Linked DNA regions of Homo sapiens: all the other regions are linked to region 5. The links come from fine-mapping of genetic effects on gene expression. A gene starts in region 5. Each other region holds a variant in brackets. All regions are shown on one strand. Distances are between the middles of the regions. Region 1 holds the start of LINC01722 (long intergenic non-protein coding RNA 1722). Region 2 has its middle 13 kb from the start of LINC01722. Region 3 overlaps SPTLC3 (serine palmitoyltransferase long chain base subunit 3). Region 4 overlaps LINC01722 (long intergenic non-protein coding RNA 1722). Region 5 holds the start of SPTLC3 (serine palmitoyltransferase long chain base subunit 3).

The links. PIP is the estimated chance that this variant, and not a neighbour inherited with it, causes the effect.
Region 1: its variant is fine-mapped to the expression of SPTLC3 in whole blood (TOPMed, PIP above 0.99).
Region 2: its variant is fine-mapped to the expression of SPTLC3 in CD4 T cells (BLUEPRINT, PIP 0.95).
Region 3: its variant is fine-mapped to the expression of SPTLC3 in whole blood (TOPMed, PIP above 0.99).
Region 4: its variant is fine-mapped to the expression of SPTLC3 in whole blood (TOPMed, PIP above 0.99). The same link has a PIP of 0.9 or more in blood mononuclear cells.

The regions. Positions count from the first base shown.
Region 1 is chr20:12,949,182-12,954,289 of GRCh38, reverse strand. LINC01722 (long intergenic non-protein coding RNA 1722) reads left to right here and starts at 1,771. Exons shown (of 12, transcript NR_109868.1): 1 at 1,771-2,525; 2 at 3,804-3,890. LINC01723 (long intergenic non-protein coding RNA 1723) reads right to left here and starts at 3,950. Exons shown (of 2, transcript NR_109870.1): 1 at 3,529-3,950; 2 at 2,663-2,839. The variant G/A (reference allele first, on the strand shown) is at 2,070.
Region 2 is chr20:12,963,398-12,968,505 of GRCh38, reverse strand. No RefSeq gene overlaps it. Among named protein-coding and RNA genes, the nearest start is that of LINC01722, 13 kb to the right of the region's middle. RefSeq lists a silencer at 1,691-1,985. The variant AGG/G (reference allele first, on the strand shown) is at 2,438.
Region 3 is chr20:13,161,822-13,166,911 of GRCh38, reverse strand. It overlaps SPTLC3 (serine palmitoyltransferase long chain base subunit 3), which reads right to left. Exons shown (of 12, transcript NM_018327.4): 12 at 1-2,158. The coding sequence ends at 2,045. It also overlaps a transcript of TASP1 not described here. Among named protein-coding and RNA genes, the nearest start is that of ISM1, 57 kb to the left of the region's middle. The variant A/G (reference allele first, on the strand shown) is at 1,921.
Region 4 is chr20:12,927,502-12,932,609 of GRCh38, reverse strand. All of the region lies in intron 4 of LINC01722 (long intergenic non-protein coding RNA 1722), which reads left to right. Among named protein-coding and RNA genes, the nearest start is that of LINC01723, 20 kb to the left of the region's middle. The variant G/T (reference allele first, on the strand shown) is at 3,016.
Region 5 is chr20:13,006,030-13,011,137 of GRCh38, reverse strand. SPTLC3 (serine palmitoyltransferase long chain base subunit 3) reads right to left here and starts at 2,166. Exons shown (of 12, transcript NM_018327.4): 1 at 1,754-2,166. The coding sequence starts at 1,870.

The DNA.
Region 1 (5,108 bases), 57 kb after region 5:
TCCCAGCACCATTTGTTGAATAGGGTGTCCTTTCCCCCACTTTATGTCTTTTTTTGCTTTGTCAAAGATCAGTTGGCTGTAAGTATTTGGGTTTATTTCTGGGTTCTCTGTTCTGTTCCATTGGTCTATGTGCCTAGCTTTATATCAGTACCATGATATTTTGGTGACTATGGCCTTATAGTATAGTTTGAAATCAGGTAATGTGATGCCTCCAGATTTGTTCTTTTTGCTTTGGTTATGCGGGCTCTTTTTTGCTTCCATATAAATTTTAGAATTGATTTTGTAGTTCTGTGAAGAATGATGGTGGTATTTTGATGAGAATTGCATATACGTACAACAAATAGCACTATGAATGGAACAGTATCTCACATTTCAATACTAATATTTAATTTAGATGGCCTAAATGCTCCACTTAAAAGATACAGAATTGCAGAATGGATAAGAATTCACCAGCTATTTGCTGCCTTCAAGAGACTCACCTCATCAGAGAAATGCAAATCAAAACCACAATGAGATACCACCTCACACCAGTTAGAATGGCAATCATTAAAAAGTCAGGAAACAACAGGTGCTGGAGAGGATGTGGAGAAATAGGAACACTTTTACACTGTTGGTGGGACTGTAAACTAGTTCAACCATTGTGGAAGTCAGTGTGGCAATTCCTCAGGGATCTAGAACTAGAAATACCATTTGACCCAGCAATCCCATTACTGGGTATATACCCAAAGGACTATAAATCATGCTGCTATAAAGACACATGCACACGTATGTTTATTGAGGCACTATTCACAATAGCAAAGACTTGGAACCAACCCAAATGTCCAACAATGATAGACTGGATTAAGAAAATGTGGCACATATACACCATGGAATACTATGCAGCCATAAAAAACGAGGAGTTCATGTCCTTTGTAGGGACATGGATGAAATTGGAAATCATCATTCTCAGTAAAGTATTGCAAGGACAAAAAAGCAAACACCACATGTTCTCACTCATAGGTGGGAATTGAACAATGAGAACACATGGACACAGGAAGGGGAACATCACACTCTGGGGACTGTTGTGGGGTGGGGGGAGGGGGGAGGGATAGCATTAGGAGACATACCTAATGCTAAATGAAGAGTTAATGGGTGCAGCACACCAGCATGGCACATGTATACATATGTAACAAACCTGCACATTGTGCACATGTACCCTAAAACTTAAAGTATAATAATAATAATAATAATAATAATTTAAAAATTAAAAAAAAAAGAGACTCACCTAACACTTAAGGACTCACATTAACTTAAGGTAAAGGGGTGGAAAAAGAGATTCCATGCAGATGGAGACCAAAAGCGAGCAAGAGTAGCTATTCTTATATCAGACAAAAGAAACTTTAAAGCAACAGCAGTTAAGAAAGACAAAGGGAGACATTATATAATGATAAAAGGCCTGTTCAACAGGAAAATATCACAATCCTAAATATATATGCACCTAATACTGGAGCTCCCAAGTTTATAAAACAATTACTACTAGATCTAACAAATGAAATAGACAGCAAAACAATAATAGTGGGGGACTTCAATACTCCACTGACGACACTAGACAGGTCATCAAGACAGAAAGTTAGCAAAGAAACAATGGATTTAAACTATACCCTAGAGCAAATGGACTTAACAGATATTTACAGAACATTCTACCCAACAACTACAGAATATACATTATAATCATCAGCATATGGAACTTTCTCTAAGATAGACCTTATGATAGGCCACAAAATGAGCCTCAGTAAATTTAAGGGAATTGAAATTATATAAAGTACTCTATCAGACCACAGTGGAATAAAACTGGAAATCCACTCCGAAAGGAACCTTCAAAACCATGAAAATACATGGAAATTAAATAACCTGCTCCTAAATGATCACTGGGTCAAGTATGAAATCAAGATGGGAATTAAAGAATTCTTCAAACTGAATGCAAATAGTGACACAACCTATCAAAACCTCTGGAATACAGCAAAGGCAGTGCTAAGAGGAAAGTTCACAGCTCTAAATGCCAACATCAAAAAATCTGAAAGAGCATAAAC[G/A]GACAACCTAAGTTCACACCTCAAAGAACTGGAGAAACAAGAACAAACCAAACCCAAACCCAGCAAGAAAAAGGAAATAAACAAGATCAGTGCAGAACTAAATGAAATTGAAATAACAACGAAAAACAATACAAAAGATAAATGAAACAAAAAGCTTGTTCTTGAAACCAGCTTAATAAATAAAATAGATAAATAAAACTGATTGAACATTAGCAAAATTAACCAAGAAGACAGAAAATCCCAATAAACTCAATCAGAAATGAAATGGGAGATATTACAACTGACACCACAGAAATACAAAAGATCATTCAAGGCTACGATGAACACTTTCATGCGCATGAACTAGAAAACCTAGAGGAGGTGGATAACTCCTTGGAATGATATAACCCTCCTATCTTACAACAGGAAGAATTAGATACCCTGAACAGACCAATAACAAGCAGCGAGATTGAAATGGTAACTAAAAAAATGTTTTATATTTTAAATCCCTGTATGTACTTCTCTAATTTTTACTCCAAATATACAAGATATGTTAGTGTGTAGGAAGCAAGTGTAAGTTTGATGTTCACATAAGAAGCAGTATCCAAGGAGAGTACCATTGAATTGTGACCTTATGTGTCATTTATTGCATTAGGAGTGAGCCAATGTTTTACCCTTTGAGATGAGCAGATTGCTTGAGGGGAGTTAAAGTCCTTACATATGTCATCAGCAAACCATTTTCACGGACTGCTGGGCAGAATTTAGGCAGATCAGGGAAGTGATGACAATGGCTAGAAGAAGGGTAGAAAGGGAGAGACATAGGTGAGAATGACAGACATTCAGGAGGTGCATCAGTGGGAGCAAGATACGGCACCACAAAAAAAGACCCGGAGAATAATATACTGTAAAGCCATATTTACAATTTATGGACATGCAAATCTATTCAATATATTGTTTAAGAGTACAGAAAGTTGAAGTCAAGCTACAAAGAATAGCAATTGATAAATAAACATAAAATTCAGCATAATGGCTACCGAGGAGGTGGTTTTTTGATATAGGGGGTGGGGGCCCACAGAAGAAGGCTAAGGTAAATACTGCTCTGTTTCTTAAGACAAATGATGGCTATGCTGGGATTCTTTAATTAATTATCTTTGTGCTTCGAGTACACATTTTATGCATTTCCTCTAGTGAGTCAGATATTTTATTTTATTATACTAAAATAGGAAAAGTAACTGGGCATAGAAACCTTAAGTTATACTGATAATTTTTGAGAGCCTGGGCTACAGTACTGAGCCCTTTCCTATAAGGCTCTTTCCTGTTTTTATTAAAAAAATTAAAAAAATGTTTTTTAATAGGAAGTTCCTATAAAGAAAGAACTGCTGCCTTGATCCCCAAGTTCAGATCCCAAATTTCAGAGCCTCTTCCATCCATATCCACTTACCTAGGCTGCTCTTCCCTAAAGCCAAGCCACTCCACTCACCTGGGGGCTCCAGGCCTCCCTGTTCCTGCTCATCACAGCCTCACATCTTGGCTGTCAGTCCCTGAGCAGCCAGAAAGATCAGGAGTAGGGTGAACACAGCAGAGATGGCCAGGACAGTGGAGACTTGTTTACTGTCACCATTGGGAACCTCTGAAGGTGCTTTAAAAGGGTGGGGCCAAAAGCTGGGGGCAGAGTCAGAACAGCTGGGGCAGCAGTAAGTCTCTGACCCCTCCCCACCCAGTGATTTTGGGAAGTTTTTCTGCTTGGCTCCTCAGACCCAGCTTGCCCCTCTGTCCTGGAAATGAGCCTCAATTAATTTCTCCCAAGAAGGTGGGACATCTGGCTCCACTGGACAGATGGAGGTGAGATGGTTGAGAGGGAAGCAAGGGTGGAGGGAGTCAACGGCTGCCGCTGGGTGTGTCTCTCTGGATCAGAGACCACTTGAGAAGAAATTCCGGTGACGGAATCACAAGTGGGGTGGGGGAGCATTAGGTCACAATGGTCAGATTGTGACCCACATGGAGTGGAGCTGGGGATTGGCCAGCCAGGAAGAGGGGGTTGATAAAAGCCAGGTTACCAGGGAGTGAGCCCGGCAGAGAGGGGCTGGGCTTGAAGGGATGGGGTGAAGGGATGGTGATGATTGGGTTCTGGCTCCTGCTCCAAGGCCCTTTCATGGAGACTTATTTCCCATGGTCCTCTCCTAAGGAAAGCCTCTCCACTCTCACCTGCATCCTGCCCTGAGTCTCAGCCTCTGACTACAGTCTATAGTCTACAGCTTCCCTCTCCCCACGTCCCAACCCCAGTTTTCTTAGTTCCTGGCTGCAAGGATTTTAGATCCTCCACTCAATTTCCAAAAATTTCTCCTGGCACCAGCTTCTCTACCCAGCATTTTTAGCCTACCTGTCAATCCTCCCCTATATGTCCCATCGGTATGGAAGTCCAGATGACAGTCATTGATATGCTGCTTGCATTTTCTGAATCACTATGTCAATGAGAAATGCGCCCTATCAGAGCTAACAGAGCTTCACAGCAAGGTCATTTTGAAGATAACCTTCTTCAAAATGAAGAGTGAGGAGGACATAAGTGCTGTAGGATCAGTATGTGAGGCTACCACAAACATGCTGTGGTTTGCACATTCTTTGAGGCTTGCAGAGAGAAGCCTGAAAAACACGGCTGATGTCTTGGCAGAATTTACCCTGGCCCCCAGGCTGGTGTACAAAACATCTTCATGACAAGGTGTCTTGCTGGCCACTCTTAACCATTAGAAGAAACAGATGCCATGGAACTTTGAAAAATCAGAAAGTGAATGTACAAATGGAGAACCTTTGAAGACAGCAGAGCCCAATGTGGGTAAATGACATTGCTCGTAGGAAGGAAACAGTGTTATGGAGCAAAAGGGGCTCACTGCCTGATGCACTAGAAGGCAATACTAGGACAATGGGTTTTGAGAAAATAAAAGCCTTACACTGAAATTCAACAACCAAGAAGACAGGAGTCAAGCTCATCTGTCTCCTGTGTTGGCTCCAAGGCAGTTTTTAGAAAAGTTTTATGGGGTGGATACTGGGGTTAGCAGGTGATTG
Region 2 (5,108 bases), 43 kb after region 5:
AATAAAGGATCATATAAACATGAATGTCTGCTGACTTTTTAAAAAAATCTTCTTAACTCAATGCTTCCGAAGCTAGTAAATTAGAGTTCTTTAGTTACAATGCATGGTTCTGCATAAATGCAGGAATATTGGGTGAAATGCTAAAATTACTCTTCATGCAACTTACTACTTTATTTGTGTATGTTGGGATTAATATTTTGAGACATATTGACACATTTTTCTCTTTTCTGTTTTTAACTATATTGCCTTCTCCATAGTCAGCCTGAAGCATCCATTGCCTTGGGAAGATTGGTGAAGTGGAGAGTAGGGGATGGGAGGATGAAGAGACATTAGAATTGCTATAGCAGAAATCCAAAGAGAACAACATGACTTGCAAAATTGTTGTTGTTTAATAAGAACCTTGAGAGTCAGCCTCTATTATGAGAGAAAAGATTTTCTAAGGTTCCTGTAGGCCCCATTGAGCAGACTAAGAGTTGCACCTACAGGCTGAGATCACAGGCTTTCTTCTACAGCAAAGAAGACCCCTCCTGTCTAGGACCACTAAGAGAGGAGTGGTTGGATATGCAGTGGAAGAAAGAAAAGCTCAGTGGGATAGGATAGGCTATAATACAATAAAGATGAGAGCCAAGCCTGAAGATCATCACTTTACATATCCAAAGTCAGAAAAGGAAGGAAGGCAGATATTGGAGGGAGTGAACATGTCAGTTCTTGAAGTTCTTACCCCCAGGAATGTGGCAGGTTAAGTTCATCCAGAGAGGTATAGAGTAGCCCCAGATTACTGGGGCTGCAGCCTGTTTCTTGGGCTTCTGCATAGACTCTAAGGAAGGAAGACTCTGCAGGTGGCCACTTTTAATATGGCGATGGGCAATGGTGCTCCTACAGTGGCCAAAGACTGATGTAATGGTGAGACGCATGGTCAGACATGTGTCTGATATCCCTTTCAAGACCTATTTCGCATTTGGGATCCTGGGAGGAGAAAATGTCACAGTGATAAAGGCATAAGACGAGAGGGCTTGACACTGAATGTCCTCAAGCTATCCTTAGTTCACATATGACATGAATGGGATCCAGATATACCCACATGTTCTTAAAGAGGGGAAATAGAAATAATGGTGAGAATGGTCAAGGATGTTGCAGAAAGGTTATCATGGTGGGGAAAGAAGCACCATCTTGGAATCATCTGGGTTAGGATTAGGAACTTGTACTGAGAGAGGTTCACAGCATCATTCGGAGCTAATGTATTGATGGGGGCCCAGTCAAGAGAAAGAACTGGGTTCTGTTCAGCTGTGCATTACCTGAGTGAAAGCTACCAGCAGCTGGTGAAAGCAGGGTGTGCTTGACTCTTGTCCTAGGACCAGCATGAACTCTGATGCAGCTCTGAGATGCTCCTCCCCCGTTCCCTGGCCATGAGATGCTTGTGCCCCACACCTTCCATGTCCAAATGCCCAGATGCTCTCCTGCTGAGGGCAGAGAAGGGAGAGAGTGGCACAGTCTGACAGAGTGGGTGTTTTACATAATGAATAGTTTATGCATGATTAAGATATTAAATCAGACCTAGGTTACTAGACTGGATTATGTCAATTACTCCCACTCTAAGATATAGTAACAGAGATGGCAGGGGCGTGGTGGTTTTGCTGTGCTGATGATGTTCTATTTCTTGCTCTGAGAGCTGACTCCCTGTCTTTATTTTGTGAAAAATCATGGAGATGTATATTTAAGACATTTGCACAGTCCTTTAAATATGTTAGGCTTCAACCAAAAGGTTTGAGAATTCTAATGCCTCTGAACCTACTTGTACATTCACAAGGACATACACATACAACCCAGCAGATGGCACTTATGAGAAGCCAAAAGTCCATTTTAGAGAAATAAAGATGCTGTCTTTTCTCCACACATTTGAGTGCAATGTGAGTAAATGTGTGACTTTACTTCCTGAGCTTTTGCTAAAGAAAGTGGGTCAAAAATCTGTGAACCTAGAAGACTCTCCAAATGCAGTGGCAATGATGCCATAAGGAAGAGTTCAGGCTCATTTTATATTTAATACTCTCCAAGTAGTAAGTGCTCTAGAATCAACTTCAGATGACAGAAATTAGAGATTTAGTCATTATTGTATCTGTATATTATAACTACCAGTGTGTCAGAAATTGAAACACAACTTTATATTTTATCATCATTTTTATATATTTTTAGATATAGCACATAGTTTCAAATATTCTTGGAGGCCTTAAATTAACTTTAGCTAAAATCTTCCCTGAACTGGCAGTAGTCTTATAATGCAGCAAGGTATGGTGGGAAGAAGAAAACAGAAAGAAGAAAGTGGGTCAAGTCCATACCTCTTGGTGTGACATTAGTTGAACTACGTAACCTCTCAGGATGCTTCTTCACCATTGAAATAATCCTCACATCTGCACACCCGGCAGCCTTGTGGTGAGAACAA[AGG/G]AGATGCTGTGTGCCTAAGTCCTTTGCAAACTGCATTCACAGGACGCCTCTTGATCATTGCAAATCTGTCTTGAGAAATGAAAGGCAGAACACGTCCATCCTCTGCAGCTTTGTATTTCTAGAGCTTTTGTGCCCTGCTAGGTCATTAAAGGAGGCAGTATTAAAATTCAATTGGCCCCTGATTAATTGTGCTTCATAATCTGTCACATGAAGTGATGTATCTATAAAATAGCTTGTGCAACATGGAAGTCAGCTGCTTTGTGGGTATGATACAAAGTGGGAGTTGCAGAACCCTTTCTTTATATTTAGCCCTGCACAAATGTAGCTGACACTGCTGGTGCTCATCCACCCTCCCTCCCCTCACTTCAGTGTATACTCATAGATTCCAGCTGCCAATGCCTATATCACTGTGCCTGGGAGCTTTCTCTGGTGAGCAAGCCTGGCTGAGCCTGCTCATGGACAGTGCTGAAAGTGTCAAAATGAATACCCCTAGAAGCAGCAGTCAATGAGTATCCCAGCTCTCTTACCCCCAGAGAGGGAAGACCTTTGAGGCATCTGTTCTGCACTAACTCCCAGAATTCTCTGATGGGACTGAGTCCCAGTCACTCCAGTGCTGGCTGGATTTTATTATCATTATGGTTGATTTCCCTTCTGTGTCTCACTTCCTCACTGTCCTACTTGTGTTTCCTTTGCCTCAGAGATATGCTAATTGTCCTCAAATCCCTGCATCAGGGTCTGCCTCTATGGGATGTCAAACTAAGACAACAACCAGCAATATTAGCTTTAATTTTTGACTCTTGAAGTTGGATTTGTTGCCTCACTTGTGGGCTTCCTTAGGTTCAGAACTCTTCCTTCCCACTGCTATGGTTTGAATGTCCCCTCCAAAACTCCTGTTGAAATTTAATTGACATTGTGATGCAATTAACAGGTGGGACCATTAGGAGGTGACTAGATCATGAAAACTTTGCCCCTATGAATGGGTGAATGCTTACTATTGCAGGAGTGGGTTAGTTATCTCAGTCTGATCTCCCTTTTCTCTCTCTGTCCCTTACCATGTATTGCCTTCTGCCATGCTGTGATACAGCAAAAAGGCCCTCACTGTGTAGCCCCTAGATGTTGGATTTCCCAGCCTCTGGAACCATGAGCCAAATAAGCTTCTGTTCTTTATAAATTACCCAGTCTGGTACTGTTTTACAACAGCAGAAAATGGACTAAGCTAAGCCATCCACCCTTCATGCCCTACCCTTCATGCTCCTTAAAAAAACTGAGATTTCCTATATATGCTAATTTATTAGGGAGGAATGAGACATTTTAAGACCTGTTCAATTGCTGTCTTTCTCATTGATTCTCTCTCTGTTTTTTTCTCTCCCTTGTTTTCAGCACTTCACATACCTTCCCTATTCTTTTATGTATCTCTGGACCTCAACCTCCCACTCCATGTAAAAAGAAGACAAGTATCAAATGATGCTTCCAGAAACTTATCACAGGATAAACACACTCTTGAATAATAGTATGCCTCTCAAAATCATTTTTTTGAAACTAAAATATATAATGACTTCAGACATTCACTTCTGAATACAACATGAGCTGAAGTTCTGTTAGTTGGCATAGTCTTTAATGGAAGAGGCTCTTCTCGAGTCACGTGTTACAGTCTAAGCTCTCAGGTAATTTAGGAGAGCTCAGACACAGATCTCCTAATGGAGAATAGACACAATGGCTTTATTAAGACATAGACAAAGGGAAATGCATTTTCTAAATGAGCTACTCTTTTTTTTCTTCTCTTTCATTTGAATATCATGGCAAATGTCAACTTTCGAGTAGTTTCATGGGGGAATAAGGACTGGCTTATAATCACTAAATCACTTGGAAACTGATCCCTCCATAACCAAGCATCCAACATGAAATATGTTTCCTTTGTTTCAGGAAAGAGGAAGAGAATACATTCCCTCCCTGAGCTGAGGGGATTTAACCAATAACAGTGACACCAAACCTGGGTGTCTCTTTATAACTCAAATGCCAGGAAGAGTTATTTATTTATTTATCTTTTAAATTTTGTCCACTAAGTAATCCAGATTGATGTTTGAAGAACTCAGAGACCTTTTCAAACTCAGTGGGACTGAGAAACAAAAGAAGGAATCTTTTGTTGCTGCTGTTGATGTTTTCTCCAGAATTAGAGAATCAGAAGGGGTGGTTCATGGCCTTGTAAAGCTTCTTCTATAAAATTCAACAGAGGATCAGAACTTTCAGAGTTCTTAAATTCTCCCTTTGAGGATTAGGGGGTAGTAGTTTATAGAGGTGATAGTACCTCTAAGTTTTCAGTAGGGAAAGGCATTTCCCATAAAACCATAGGGTGTGTGACTAAAATATAGTTTTGTTGTTGTGAGCATATCTTAAAATTTTATGGCCTGATTTTTTATTTCTTTGCAAAACCGGTCTTACCCTTTTACTTAGTCAAGCATGTTTGCATAACTCCCTTACAAAAATGCCAGAGTCTCTGAAATCTGCTGAACACAGAGGGTCTCTTTGATGAGGAGGGAATCAGCTGTCCCTGTGGTATAAAGCCCACTTCCCGCACTGTGGGAATTTCCATTTGGTGGGACTTTAAGGTCCCTATGTGCTTCAAGTGTTAATATTGGTTAGTGGAAAACGGCATTTCCCACAGCCTCCAT
Region 3 (5,090 bases), 160 kb before region 5:
AGGTAAGTAGTTTCCCACAATGAATTAGACCCAATATCCTCCATGAAAGTAATAATAGTGGACATTCCTGCTCATGAAGACACATGTCTAGGGGCTTAAAACTTGAAGTGTAGATGTGAAGGTGTGTGTAAACATCACAGACAGATCCAGAAAGAAAGGAAGATGTTTATTGCTTTCCATACCTTGTGGAAGGACTAGATATCTCGCTGTCTTTTTGACCTCCTGTTTCCTTTATAGAACGCAAGGCATTTATGCATTTTGGACAATTCATTTAAATGCACATATTCAAGATAAGAACAGTATGTCTCCCTTTCTTTGCATATTTATGACACATTTTATTTGCACAAATAATACTGCATCAGTTTCATTGAGAAAAGTTGGAATTTTGTTATCAAAATCATTGGATGGGAAACTGCATTTTCAGAACCCACTTCTTTTCCTCTTTCACTAACGGTATTCCTTACAACTTGTAAACATTCATGAAGAACTCTATCATTGTGATCCATTTTTAAACCAATGCACCCACTTGGAGTTATAATTTCCCCATAAAAACTTTCCATGCTGATCACTTTTTTTCCTTTAATACGCTTTGAGCATCAGGGCACACTGCTCCATCCATCGCAGGCGCTGCGGGTGGAGTTTCTATCTCAGTGCACAGCATGAAAGCTTGGGTCCATCTGTGCCACACAAAACCAAGCCTCTCTTGAAGTGATTTGTTTACAGTGTCATTTGATGGAGTGGAATGTTCTGCAACTCATTCGAACTGTTACAGAAGCTTTGCTAAAAGGTCACCACTGCTCTCTAGAATTTCCAAATCTGGGCACCCTCTGGGAGCTTGTTAAAGATAAGGTTCTCCATGGGCTTTTTCCATACAAACTAGATCAGATTAACAAGAGGCTACTTTTCCATAGAGGTTTGTGTTCATGTTGAGAAGGAGAGCAAGAAAGAGAGAACACAAGTAAATTACAGTTAGTTACCTCAAAGTGTGCAAGCCCACTTTCTCCCAATTCAGAGGGCATGTAACAAGTGATAGTACAATTTAATAGGCCTAAACAAGTGTGTTGGTCTTGAAAAAGTCAGAATTTGCTTTTAAATGTCCTTCTTGAATCAATGCATTCTTCAAATATAGTCTTGGGAGTCGATTCTAAAGGACACTGAATTTCACCATTTACTCAAAATTCAATAGGAAAATGACAACTAATTCCTTAAGGTAATAGAGGCTGTGCAGGGTAAGCATTCACCGTGCACTGCACCAACAAGGTTCAAATTGTTGTAACTACCATTTTAGTCTAGACCTAAAAGTGTCTTGTGCTTGCTTTCTGCCCCTTTTCTTATGAAACAAACATCTTGAATTTTCCAAACCTCAAAAGCTCAGCTGTAAAACTGTAGGAGACCAGCAAGAGGAAAAGGAAAATTTCCTTCAAAGACGTCTCTAGTCGCAGTTGATCAGTTCTGCTTTCCCCCTCGAAACATTAACTATGTCTTTTGACACTTGTCTGTGAAAAACGTCCAAATGTGACAAATGGTAGAAACAACATTTCTTTACCCTCCTGCCTGGAACTTCCCATGATACAGATGAGATCTAGCTGATGCTTTTATGAGTGGAACAAGGAAGGTGGCTACTGTCCACCACACTCACTTACATCTGCAGATGGAATAAGTAAACACATAGTGAACTTACTGAATAAAAATTTTAAATTCTCTCATTTGCATTTGGTTGGAATCCCTGAAAGGGTCTGCACAGTAGCAGCTAAAACACAGGCTTATTGCCATTAAAAATATTCTCAGAAGTGTGTGTGTGTGTGTGTGTGTATTTCTAGTAGAATACTTGGAAGAAGAGAGACTTAAATCTGGAATCATGTTTTTGTCTCTGCAGTCCAAGCTGGAGACATTAAAAACAACAACGTCTCCCTCAGTTCA[A/G]TCAAGCTGGTCTGGGAACCAAAATTGTCCTGAGGAAGGGGGAGAAATCCATTTATATTCCTTGTGAGGCAAGGAGGGAGGTCTTTCTCGCAAAGTCTTTATGTGTCATTCAGGACCAGGAAACTTAATCTTCGAGTTCAAAGCTCGTCTCATCATAGAGCTCAGGACGTGCTGACTTCTTGTGCCGGGAATATTTCAGTTGCAAGAGATCACCCATTTCATCAAGAGCTTCTAAAACCTGCAATGAGATTGCTTTCCAATAGCTATCATTGAACACCTAAGTAGCCCTGCTTTGCAGAGCCCAGATTAATAGCAAGCCTCACAAAGACACACAGTCTTAGTTTGCTAGCTTCTTTGATTTTAAAGAAAAGAAGCAAGATCCGTACCATTAGGTTGTGGTTTAAGACCCTAGAGGAATGTTAGATGCTAATTAATTTTATTTAGTGGTCTAACTCCATACTATGAATGTTTATTTTATTTTGAGAGTGTGAAGAGAAGAATAAAAACATGTGACCCATGCTTACCCTTAAAAGGTTTTATTTTAAAATGTAGTGACTTATATGTAGTCTTGTGGAAGAAAAAGATAAGGTTGCAGAATGCATTTGAAGTTATATCTTCATGACACAGCAAATCACCTGGCCAAGAACAAAGAGGAATGTTGCGGGAGCTGATTAACATCATCCTCTGTCCTCTCATGCTACCCCAGGCCTCCTGCTTTTAAATACTCATCTCTGTGTCCCAGAAAATACTAGAACTTAACTCACAGGGACTGAGAACTTGTCTGTTTCAACTCTCTTACTTTAGGTGGGTACATGTATCCCCCATTTTGCACATGAAACAAATGAGATCCAGGAAGTAAAAAAAGGTCATTTTCTGAGAACACATGGACACAGGAAGGGGAACATCACACACCAGGGACTGTTGTGGGATGGGGGGAGTGGGGAGGGATAGCATTAGGAGATATACCTAATGCTAAATGACGAGTTAATGGGTGCAGCACACCAACATGGCACATGTATACATATGTAACAAACCTGCACGTTGTGCACATGTACCCTAAAACTTAAAGTATATTAATAATAAAATAAAAAAAAGGTCATTTTCAATTCTAGTATATCACCAATCCTGTGGTATTGGTCATGCCTTTTTAACCTTTCTGAGCCTGTTTTTCTTAACCTGCCAAATGAGGAGGAAGATAATATTAGGGTCTAATGCTTTGAAAAGGTAAGGTGAGGGTTGTTAATGTTAGAATGGGTGACTAATAGATCTTATGGACTTTCCTCTTTGGGAAATCTTTCAAACTGACATTAATTAAGATTTCCTCCAACTTGTTAACAGTAATTGATTTCTTGGTGGTAGGAGTATGAGTATTTAAAATGTTCTTCCCTGTTTTTCTAAATTTCCTACATCAAATCTCAGTACTAAGAAAAAGTAACCAAAGTTATCTTTAAAATGACACCTCTCTGGGATAGTTTCTAGCAATCTTTGCTGAAGGTGGGGGATGGACTAGTTCAGTGGTATCCAAAGTGAAGGATCTGCACATTTGGGGCATCTGTGAGATAATTTATGGAGGATGCAGGAGGAAAACATTAGGATTTCTATTTTTTTTTTTTTTTTTTTTTTTGAGACAGCGTCTCACTCTGTTGCCCAGGCTGGAGTGCAGTGGCATGATCTCGGCTCACTGCAACCTCCGCCTCCCGGGTTCAAGTGATTCTCCTGCCTCAGCAGTTCGAGTAGCTGGGATTACAGGCACATGCTACTACGCCTGGCTAATTTTTGTATTTTTAGTAGAGATGGGGTTTCACCATGTTGGCCAGGCTGGTCTCGAACTCCTGACCTCAGGTCATCCGCCCACCTCAACCTCCCAAAGTGCTGGGATTATAGGCGTGAGCCACTGCGCCCGACCTCTATTCATTTTTATCTCAACCTTTTAAACTTTTATTTGTGTGTCTCTTATATAATGTACGTAATATATTGGTATTGCATAGATCATTTATAAAGAATTTATGTTAATGTCTGCTGATCCAAGACCACCCAGAACACACTCGTGCTCAGAGTTAGGTTTCTTTAGCTTGCTGAGATGGGAGAGGGAGGACACTGCAGAAGAACCGTGGGCATCTTAGTGACAGGAAGATGGGAGTGGCTTCTCACTGCATTTGAGCTTGTGCCTGAGATGACTCTAAGGAAGCAGGGACCAGTTCTGGGTTGGATGCTGTTAAGAAGTGGGAGCAGTTCACTGGCTGGCTATATATTTATAATTTCTATCTGAAAGGCGAGAGAATGAAAGCGAGGCTAGAGTTGTTATTGGTGAATGAGCAACTGTCACACATGTCAGTCAGAAGAGGGAGACATTAAGTATTGTGGCCTTGTCTCTGTCTTGTCCAAATGTGGTCGCAGAGTGCATTTGTCTAATATTATTTCTAGTCTATGAGCCTTTAGGTTCAATTGCTACCTTAATGTACTGGCTGTTCATCAGGGTCATTTTCCATTTTCTCTTACATGTACATTAAGGAACTGCTCAAAATTTTCTGTTGAGATGGGCACATGATCTCAACAGTTTAGAGGCATTTGTCTAGATGACTGATGTCTCAGTATCCTTTCAAAGCAGGTGTTTTGCAGCAATTAAGAAGTTGTGAAGAGAATCACATACATGAATACCTCAGTGCTGCTTGGAGCACAAAATTACAAATTCATCCATGCTGTGTGTCCCTCCTGCCATCTCAGGGAACTTGCTTCCCGGCCATGCTCTCTTCTCTCCCTTCTGTGCAAGGTCCCCTCTTCACTGTCTTCTTCCCTTAATGTGTAAACATGCTCAAGCCTTCTACATTTTCAAGGGTATTTTCTAAACCTATTTTTCTTTCTACAGTCAGACTTCTTGAAAGTTTTGCCTGTCTTTTCTTAACACCAACTCATTTCATTTAAAAGAAACAATTTGTTAAAATTCACATTCTGGAAATACATACTCATTTTAGAGAATCTGGGAAATATAGAAGGGTGTAAAGAAAACAAAGTTCACTCATCTCAAAATCTGGTTAGCTCAGTTGTTAACATGCTACTCAATAATTTGTACTGTGTACCTACTGTGTACAATACAATGGTTTATGTTTTGAGGCTATACTGGTGAAGACGAAGGACATGGCAACTCTGTGTGTGTGTGCGTGTGTGTGCAC
Region 4 (5,108 bases), 79 kb after region 5:
TTCAAACCAATCCTGTAATTATCTTAGGAGGCATTTTTGTCAGAATGAACAAGTTGATGCTAAAATTTATATGGATATGTAAAGAACTTAAAATATTCAAAAGAATATTTGGAAAGAAGAATGAAGTTGGAGGACTTACATACTTGTTATCAAAATTTGCCATGTAGCTCCAGTAATCAAGACATCTTAGTATTGCCACAAGCTCAGGTATATAGAGCAACGAAAACTGTAAGACTCTTGTCTCATACTGCACAAAAAATTAACTGAAGTGGATCATAGGTCCATATATAATAGATAAAAACCACAATGATATACTACTAAATACCCACTACAATGGCTATAGTAAGACAGTAGCTTGTGTTGGTGAGGATGAAGAGAAACTGGAATCCCCACACATTGCTGGTATGAGTTTAAAATGGTGCAGCTCCACTGGAAGTAAGTTTGGCAGTTTCTTAAAAAGTTAAACTTACCATGCAACCCAGAAATTCCACTTCTTGGAATCTATTTAAGAAAAATGAACTCATGTTGATACAAAGACATGTCTGTGAATGTTTCTAGCAGTGTTATTCCTAATAGGTCTAACTGAAAACAATTGAAATGCCCATCGATTGGCCAATGGTTAAATAAATGTGGTATACCATACCATGGAACACTGTTCTATAATTAAAAGCACACAACTAATATATGTACTAGAACATGAATGAACCTTAAAAACACTGTGCTAAGTAAAAGAATCCAGACGAAAATAGCCTATGTATTGTGTAATTCCATTTATATGCAATGTCTAGAAAAGACAAGTTTATAGAGACAAAGCAGATGATTGTGCCTAACTAAAGCTGGGGATGGAAGACAGGATTGACTGCAAATGGATGTGAAGGACCTTTTTTGGGGAGTATGAAAATGTACTAAGGTAGGATTGTGGTGGTGCTTGTGCAACTATAAATTTAGTCAATTTGAATTGTACACTTACAGTGGGCACATTTTATAGTAGGCAAATCTTATTTTAATTAAGCTGTTAACTGTGAAAAGAAAGAAGCAAAAAGTTGTTCTCCCTTTGAAATGTTAAAATAATATGTGTTCTTAGAGAAAAATAATAAAACAATTCCTTTTTTATTCTCTAACTTTTTGTGTGTCTGCAAAAAGAAGTTGGTTATTTTGATTAGAGATGATAAGTAATATAAATATTATATTATATATTATAAATGTAATTCACATATTGCATATTGATAACAAATTATATATTTTATATATTTATAATATAATTATGTTTTATATATTTATAATATGAAGTACTATATATTACATTTTATAATATATATTTGTTTAATTTAATATAAGGATAATTAATATAAATATTTAATTACACAAGGTATGATAATTAGAGAAATATGAATATGAATATGAATATATAATTTTATGCTTAAGAAATGTTTAATAGCTTATTCATGGGACAAAGTTAATATGATATGTATGTATTATTTAATATGCTGGTAAGTTAGTTGTTTTTTAAAGCTATGAGTAAAAGTTTTAACATTACTTATTTTTATACTTGTCTCTGCATGCCTGAATACATGCAGAGACATGTATTCAATTTTTACTCCAAATTATTACAAAAATGACGTAAAACAGAAAAAAATGAGTGTCATTTTTATGTAACATGACTGGCCTATTTTATGCTTAGATTGTAGAAGTTTCTTTTTGTGATTTAATTATTCTGTTAAATTTTGGTGCCTTTTGTACGCACTTAAATCAGTTTTCAAGAAACTTCATGTTTAGTTTTCTTAATTGATTCTTAATTAGAACAGTTACTTACAAAATATTTATAATGTTGCCTGAAATTATTTGACTTTGTATCATGTCCTTTATAATGATTTTTTTTACCCTTCCAAAATTCAGAATAATTTTGCTCTTTCACCCTATAAAATAAAGGAAAATAGGAATAATTAGGTTTGTTGAAACTCTTCAGGTTTTAAATACTTCAAAACTGTTATGAGAGTCCTTCAACTTTGGGATTTAAAAACATACAAAAGATTTTCCAAACATGTCAAATCCAGAAGAGAGCTGATGTTAATTTTATATTAGTAAAAAGTATTACTAGAATTAGCTTTTAGTAATCATATACTTTTCAAGTTAAAAGAAGTATGTTCCTTTTTAAGCATACACACAGAAACAGTAACTATTAAAAGAATTTTCTCCAAGTTTCTAGATTCACAAATCCCTTTTTACTTTTTGTTTATAAAAAATCTCAGTAAGTGTTGACCCAATTATGTGGGAATCATTAGGGACCTACTGCTTATTTTAGTCTTTTGTTAGCTCTAGTAGCCAAGCTATATCGACCTTGTTTAAGATCTATAACAGCAATAGCAAAATGTATGAAAACTTCCATTGACTTAGTTCTAGGATCTCTACTACACTTAACAATTTCTCATCTTACACAGATTCTTTTATTGACAGTCATGTGACATCTATGAAATATTACCGCCTTACCCTTCAAAGGTCTACATCCATTGCTGCTTCCCTCTGAACCCAGGCATCATCTTTTTTATTTTAATTTGTATTTTATTTTGTTGATTGATTTATTTTTTATCTGATGAAAGAGGACCCAATAATTTCCAGCCTTTTGGGAACTATTCACAATCATGCAAACCTTCTAGCCAAGATAAATGTGATTTTATTTTGATTTTATGTGGTTCATACTGAAAAAGAAAAGCTAAAAATTATAAAGCCATTTACGTGATCAGAAACTTAAATTTGGCCTTGCAATACAAGCTTCTCTCAGAAATTGAATAATTCCAGTGGGCTGACTTAATTGCCCTCACTCAGATATGTCAGCTGCCCAGAGATAAAGAAGGTGTTATAGCACGTATGATTTTTAGGTTAGTTCATGACTTTGAAATGCTTTAGAAGAAAAGAGATGTCCTGACTAATACAAGATGGTGAATTAAAACCCTAATTTGCCTGCAGACAGTGCGCTCTGGATAAATATCAGATTAGCAATGTCTCAGCAATGGTAGG[G/T]ATCAATGATCTACATCCTGATGCCTGACTAGTTTGCTTTGGCCAAAAGAGGGTAGAAAGAAACAGAGACGCAACCCTTCATATTTGAGAACTGGTCTAGCACTGTTAGTTCTTGGTGTTGCTAGGAGTAGAACAGGCACTCACAGCTAGGTCATAATATTCTCTGGCTGAGTATAAACAATTTCACTGAGTACCAGCATCAGAAAAGGCCACTCTGTGATGGTGGTGAATCAAGACAAAAAGAAGACCACTCCAGTCATGTCTGAATGCAGACAGAAACGTGAACCTTATCTAAACTACACAAATGACCAAACACTCCTCATTCCCAGCTAATATGTGTAACAGTGGCTTATTCACCAACCACAGCTTTAACCTTACTTCCTTCCAAATTGTAGATCACATTTTTAAAGTATTCAATCATAGTGTTAACACCACTTCCTGATGGCCTCCACTTCAGAGCAAAAGTCCGATTCTGTAAAACATCCCCTAAAGCACTGGTAAGCACTGAATGTTTACATTTCTCCAAATTCATATGTTGAAATTCTAACCCCCAAGGTGACTGTGGTAGGAGCTGGGGCCTAGGGAGGTGTTTGAGGAGTGAAGGTAGAACTCTTATAAATAGGATCAGTGTTTTTATAATAGGGACTCCAGAGAGCTCTCTCACCCTCTTTCTGCCATGTGAGGAAACAGCAAGGAATTGGCATTCTGCAACTCAAAAAAGGATCCTCCCTGGACCCCAACCATGGTGGCATTGTGATCTTAGACTTCCCAGACTTCAGAAATGTGAGAAATAAATTGCCGTTGTTTATAAGCCACCCAGGCTACAGTACTTCGTTATATAGCAGCCAGAGCTGATGAAGACAGGAATCTAACTAAAGTCCCACATCCTATACTGTCTTTTTTAACATGCTCTTACTGAGAGACACCACAGTTCTCCACAGTGTTTTCCCTTATTTCAATGAGTGAGAAACAACTTGTTCAGCCACAGGTCTGTTTCTGGTGATGTTGCTGTAAGATGCCACTGTGGGCACACTGTCTATGGGTTAACCCTCCTCTGCAAGGAGCAGTGCCTCTGTTGCTATAGGCTACTGCTTCAATAAAGTTGCTGTCTAACACCACCAGCTTACCCTTACGTTCTTTCCTGGGTGAAGCCAAGAACCAGGCTAAGCCCCAATTTGGGGGCTTTTCTGTCCTGCATTGCTTTGAGGTAGGGTGAGACTCCTCATTAGAGCTCAGAGAAACCCTCTTGCTCAAAATTAGAATAACTGGTAAATCATAATAAAAAATAATAAACATTTACTGAGCCCTCACTATACCATGCATTCTTCTGAATCTTTTGTGATTTTAACCTTATAAAAACTCAGGGGCAGGTGCTACTCTTAGCCTTATTTACTAAGGGTAAGACTGAGCTACAGAAGTGTCCAGGGAGCTTGCCAGAAGTCCCAGAAATAGGAGAAATGATGCAGTGCATTGGCCTGGGCTATTCTGGTCCAGGGTCCATGCCTTTACACACCACAGTATGTGTCCCAGTGAGAACCTGGCCCTTCCCTCTCCTTCCATGTCCAGAGCTCTCAGCCTGGTTCACAAAGCCCTTATGCTTGAATTTCTCTCCTTGAAAGTAGCAGGACAATGTTGGGGCAGTGAGTTGAAAAGGAAATTGAACTGTCCAGCCCTGGCAGAGACTCCTTCAAATTGTGACATTTCACATTGCTGCTAATTTCTCTTTTGCACAAAGTTGTGAACTAAAAGCAGGCTGAAGCCAAGGGTGGCTTGCAGGTTCGACCCATTCCGGTCAGAGGCTGCAGTTGCTGTGAATGTATCTGAGTTTCTCACTGACTTATCTACCTCTGCCAGTGGAAGCTGGACCACTTATGATTCAAGCCTTGAGTCATTAGTTTTCTTCCACACCCATGGAAATGACAGCTGGGTTGATTCCCAGTGTGTGTCAGGATGAAGCCTGGTCCCCTGTGGTGTTTAGTGTTCCTGAGGCCCTGAGCCCCCCGCAGAGGATGCATCAAGGGTGTAGTGACTGTTCGTGGGGCAGCGACATCCCAATAGACAGCATGCTTCTTTCTGCAAAAAATTGATTTCTC
Region 5 (5,108 bases):
TTTGTTTTTCTGAAAAATATTTTTTAAGCCATAATTGAGGCTCTCAATGAAAGCCAATTGTAGCTTAGTGACACCTAAATATGTCTGAGACAAGAGGCTCTGGATGGCCCTTCAGGAAGGCAACAGCAGCCCTGATGTTTTCGACCGTTCTTAGGGAAGCCTCAGTGTCCAAGGATATTTACAGTCTTGCAGCTGCACTTCATAATGAACCTTTAGAATCCTGGGTTTTATCCTTACTTAGGAGTGGTTATAACTGTCTAAGTTTCTAATCTCATACCTCGAATGTGATTATAAAACCAAGATAAAATAAATAAAAGGGAGAAAAGTTAAGAAGGAATCTCTTCCCAGATGAGATCCCTCAGGGTCAGAATAATCACAAGGGTAAGTAGATGAATAGCTTGTGAGTTACAGGCATTCCAGAGGCAAGGATCGTCTTGAGTAGTGGCCTGAATTGATATTTAGTGATGCATAAGTGGTGGATATTACTGCAATTTCCTTCATACAACTGACAGGAGTTGAGCACCTTCTCTTCACATTGCTCCAGGTTTCAGATCCTCAGGTGGGACAGGCCAGTTCTGAGGTTTCTGATAGACACCTCCCAGCGTTGGACAGTGCCTTTTGTTAAGAGGGGAATGCTTTTGGGGACCACAGCCTGTTTACACACAACTCAGGCTCTAGAGCTCCTTTAGCCTCTTCCAATTGCACACACGAATGTAATTCACTGAGAGGAGGACTGGCCCCAGCCAGACCCACCTGTCCTGTGATCTTAGAACAATCTGCCTTTCCTGTGGGTGGATACTTGCTCTCTGGATGATCAAATGATGGAAGATTGCATGGGGCTCCCTGTGCCACTTCTCTTTCCAAACAGGAGGCTACCTGTTTGACTACTTGGGCTTGCTCCTCAGGCAGATGAGCTCACTTCTGCTGCTCAGAGCAGAGTGACACGGGATGTCCTGTGGGGAGTGGGGAACTGCCTTACATAAGGACCTCACAGACCCAGGCTCTCTCTTAAAACAAGCTGACAACTTTCCTCGAGTTCCTCCTGCCTAGGACACTCTGCAAACATCCCGGTGCAATAAGAGTGAAAAAAAAAAAAAGTGTCAAGTTGGAAAATACAAGTTTGTTTTAAAGATGCTGTTCTGTTTTCTGAGAGCAGTGTGTCACAATCAGCCCTGCTTTCTGAAGTGTTTTGGAAAAGAATGTCTGTGACGTCACATTTCAAAGAAATACTGTGGCCTCAAATCAAGTAGTGAGCTAAAACAATGCTCCACTACACACCAATAATAACTCGCCTTTCAAACAGTGATGCATTTCTCATGGACCTGGGAAGAATGCCATCTCCACCACATAATGTCAGCAAAATGTACTTTCACTTCCTCTTTTTCTTCTGAAGCATGACGGTTGTAGCAGGTCTCTTGGACAAAAATATATGCAAAGAGTTGGAACTTTCTTAATTCTTCCCTCCCCGCAAAATGCTTGAGACAAAAGTCTAGTAGGTACATTTGTATTTTAGGGAGCCTGAAGCTGTGTGAGTCTGTGTGTATCCTCTTTTGCATACAGAAGACATTTTCTCCTTAATCCACACCTAAACTTTTTGGTAGCCAAGCACTTTCTATTAACAGAGTCAACAGTCAAAACATGTAAAAACCCTTCATAAGATGAACTCTAAGTTAGGACAGCCTCAAATATCTTCACAGAGAAATATTGAAACGTTCAGGTAATTCAGAGAAGAGTAGGGGAGAGTGCCTCTTACCTGGGCTTCCTTCACTATTCCATTCTTTGTGCAGTTTCTGCTTTGTGAGCCATTGCTCTGTTTCTTGTGATTGTGAAGTTTCCCGTTGCAAACAGCACCACCTCCAGGGTTAGCCATGGGTGTGAAGTGACAGAGCCCGGGACAGGTTTTCCTTCAGAGGTCTCTGCAGGCTTTAGTTTTCAGTCTGCGAGGGGATGGGATAAAGCTCTTTGGGGCTGAGCCCTTAAAGGAATCTTACCAATCAGGCTTTTCCAGAAGAAGAGCAACAGCCTATCTTTTTGTCAGATCGTTGAAACTAAAACAAATGGTTACCTTTATACTTCTCAACTCCCGTCAAAATGTGAACTCCATGGCAACAAACCTGCTTCCGAAACTGTAAAGGAGATTGTCCATGCTGGCTCCTTCTGGGGACTGAGGGAACCTGGGGACTGAACAACCCAGTGGCAAAGTGTGAGGAGGCGGGCTGGGAGGTGGAGAGTCTTTTAAAGACACACACACACAGCACACTCACAGAGTCTTCTAAGTAACTGAGTTCTGAGTTAACCTCTTTTTCCCACCCCCTCTCTCCTGCATGTAATTGTGGTTTTTGGTTGTAAACCAAGCTCAAAAGTTAATATTTCTTTTTGCTATAAAATAGCATTCAGAGGTGGTTGCCAGGGCCTGGAGGGATGAGGCAAAGGGAAGTTATTGTTTAATGGGTACAGAGTTTGAGCTGGAGCAGATGAAAAAGGTATAGTGATGGATCAGTGCACAACAATGTGAATGTACTTAAACTAAACTGTGCACTTAAAAATGATTAAAATGGTAAGTTTCATGTGATGTATACATTTCCATAATTTACAAATGATTTGAAAAGATTTTTAAAAACCCAGTATTCAAAACCAACCTATGTTAAAATCAGTACTATAATAAGGGGGTACCAATCCATCAAGAATTCCAGTAAGACAGATGTTGAGGAGACAGAATATTTGATGACTGCGTTATCTTTATCTCGTGACCTTGGGGGAGGTATTTACCCACTTTATGCCTCAGTTTTTCCATCTATAAAATATCTGCTGAGGTAGAACAAAAATCATGCTGTAGCTTGGGTTTGTTACTGACGCAGGTGTGAGGTGGTTGATGACTGCAGGGTCCCAGTCCTGAAACACATCTGGTTTACTCACTAACTCTTATTCTCTCAATGCATGAATCTTCAAGGCTTTGTTTCTTCCTACCATCATCAAATGGCATGGTGACATGATTTGCTGGAGAGTCATTACAACCTGTTGAGTCTTCCCAAGTCCACCCTTGTGGTTTTCCTGAGTCGAGACTTCTTTAGCATCAGACTCTAAGAAAAGAAACCAATTTATTGGGGCAGTAGACAAAAACAAACAATCAAACACACACACACAAACAAAAAGAAAGAAATGGCCCCTGTTTCCAGAGCCTCATGTCCTGTAACTCAGCTCCCTTGGACAGGGTTCAGTTCTACTCCAGATTAATGTAGCTTTTGGAGGTGGACATGCTAACGCTTCTCCTAACTATGACTTGCATATGAGGGTACCTGCCTTTACCATCCCAAGGAATGCTGGAGGAATAAGATAAGGCCTGAGGCCAAGGTGAAAGACGGAGTTAATACCAAGTGTGTTCAGCCCAGTTTGTGTCTCAAGTTCAAAAATTTTATCGCATTTCTCTCAACCTTTATCATCAAAGTAGAAGTAGATTTTCACTGGTCTCTCCCTTCCATGGCTGTTTCACTGAGATTTGGGGGCTAAACTCTTGTAGGTTTATTTTCTTCTAAGATTTAGGAAATGGAGAGATGAAGAGGTAGAGGGGAGCACTATTGTTGGCCCAACTGCCTCACGTTACTTAGAAAGACAAGTTGAAGAGAGGGCGTTATTTTCCCTGAGCTCTATTGCTCAGTGCAAAGCATTTTTTTAATAAAGATTTTGAAATAAAACTTTTTTAACATTAGATGTCTCTTTTCTTTCTTCTTTTCTTCTTCTCCATCTCTTTCCTCTTTTCACATTTGTCCTTTTCCCTTTCCTCCCCCACCCTCCTCTTCTTTTTCTTCTTCTTTTTCAAATTTTCTTTTTACAAGGGACAAAAGGTATATATAAAATAAATCTTAAAACACAGCTGAATTCTGCTTTCTCCGTTTCCTTCCCCTAATTGCAATTGCTAAGGTTAGGTAATCACACATAGATTTCTGAGAAATATCTACTACGTGCTCTCACTCTTGAAACTTTTCTATTTTACTTACCGTATTGGAATGTGTGCATTGTTGTGTGTACAAAATTATATTAACACACCAACCATTTGGCATCAGGCACTGCTGGTATGTATAGTCAGTGGTGACTCATTGCTTCATACCATCTCCAGTTAAAATAAGCGAAGAGTTCTGTTGAAGTCAGTGGTAGGTTTAGGTTTAAGGTTTGGAGCAATACTAAAACACAGACTAAATATTGAGCAAGATTTGGCATCTCTGAACAACTAAATACATTTTGGATCAACTAGTAACCTCAGAAAATGTTTGAATAAGTACTCTGTATTTGCTGAGTCCTTGGTTCTCACAAGGAATAAAACATACACAGTCTCCACCTTCACAGAACTAAGACTCAGCAGTACCCACATGCCTTCTACTTAGGATATCTTACTATTAAAGGTAGAAATAAATCTTCCCACTAGTACATTAAAGGCAAAGATGATAAAATTAGCAATGGCCTTGTGGTGTTCTCCAAAGTAATGGTTTTGCCCAGATGCCAGATTCTCAGCTCCTCTCTTAATGAAGCAGCCAAAAAGGGAGATAACAGAATGAGGATAGGCAAGAAAGGGAAGGACAGAGGCTTGGCAATGTGTTGTGAAAACGCTCTTGGAACAACTTGGGGATAGAGAGTTGGCAAAAATGGGAGGATATGAGCAGAATGAACTGTCAGAATTGTACAGTGTACAGAAATCTGTTCATTCTCAGTGACTCAAGTTTTACCCATGTAATGGAGAGTGATGCTCATGCAAAACTAAATTTTCAACAGGTTAAGTGACTTTTCCAAAGCCACAGAATAATATGTGGTAGAAGTGGGTCATGAACTCAAGAATGTCTGGGTCTAAGTGAGTGCCGTTTTCCTTACACCATGACACCTCTCCTTCAGCTGTTGACTTGAGAACCATCAACCACCAAGAAAAGAAATAACAGAATCTGTTATTATTTGGGAGATTTCATTGGATTGGCCAAATAATGAATAAAAATGCTTTATTTGCTTTTTGATGTTTAAAAATTTGCAATATATTAAATTTTTTTACAAATGACTAATGACATGTCAATATCTACTAATAAGTCTACGTGGAAGTACTTAAATTTCCCGAAGAGTTCAATCTG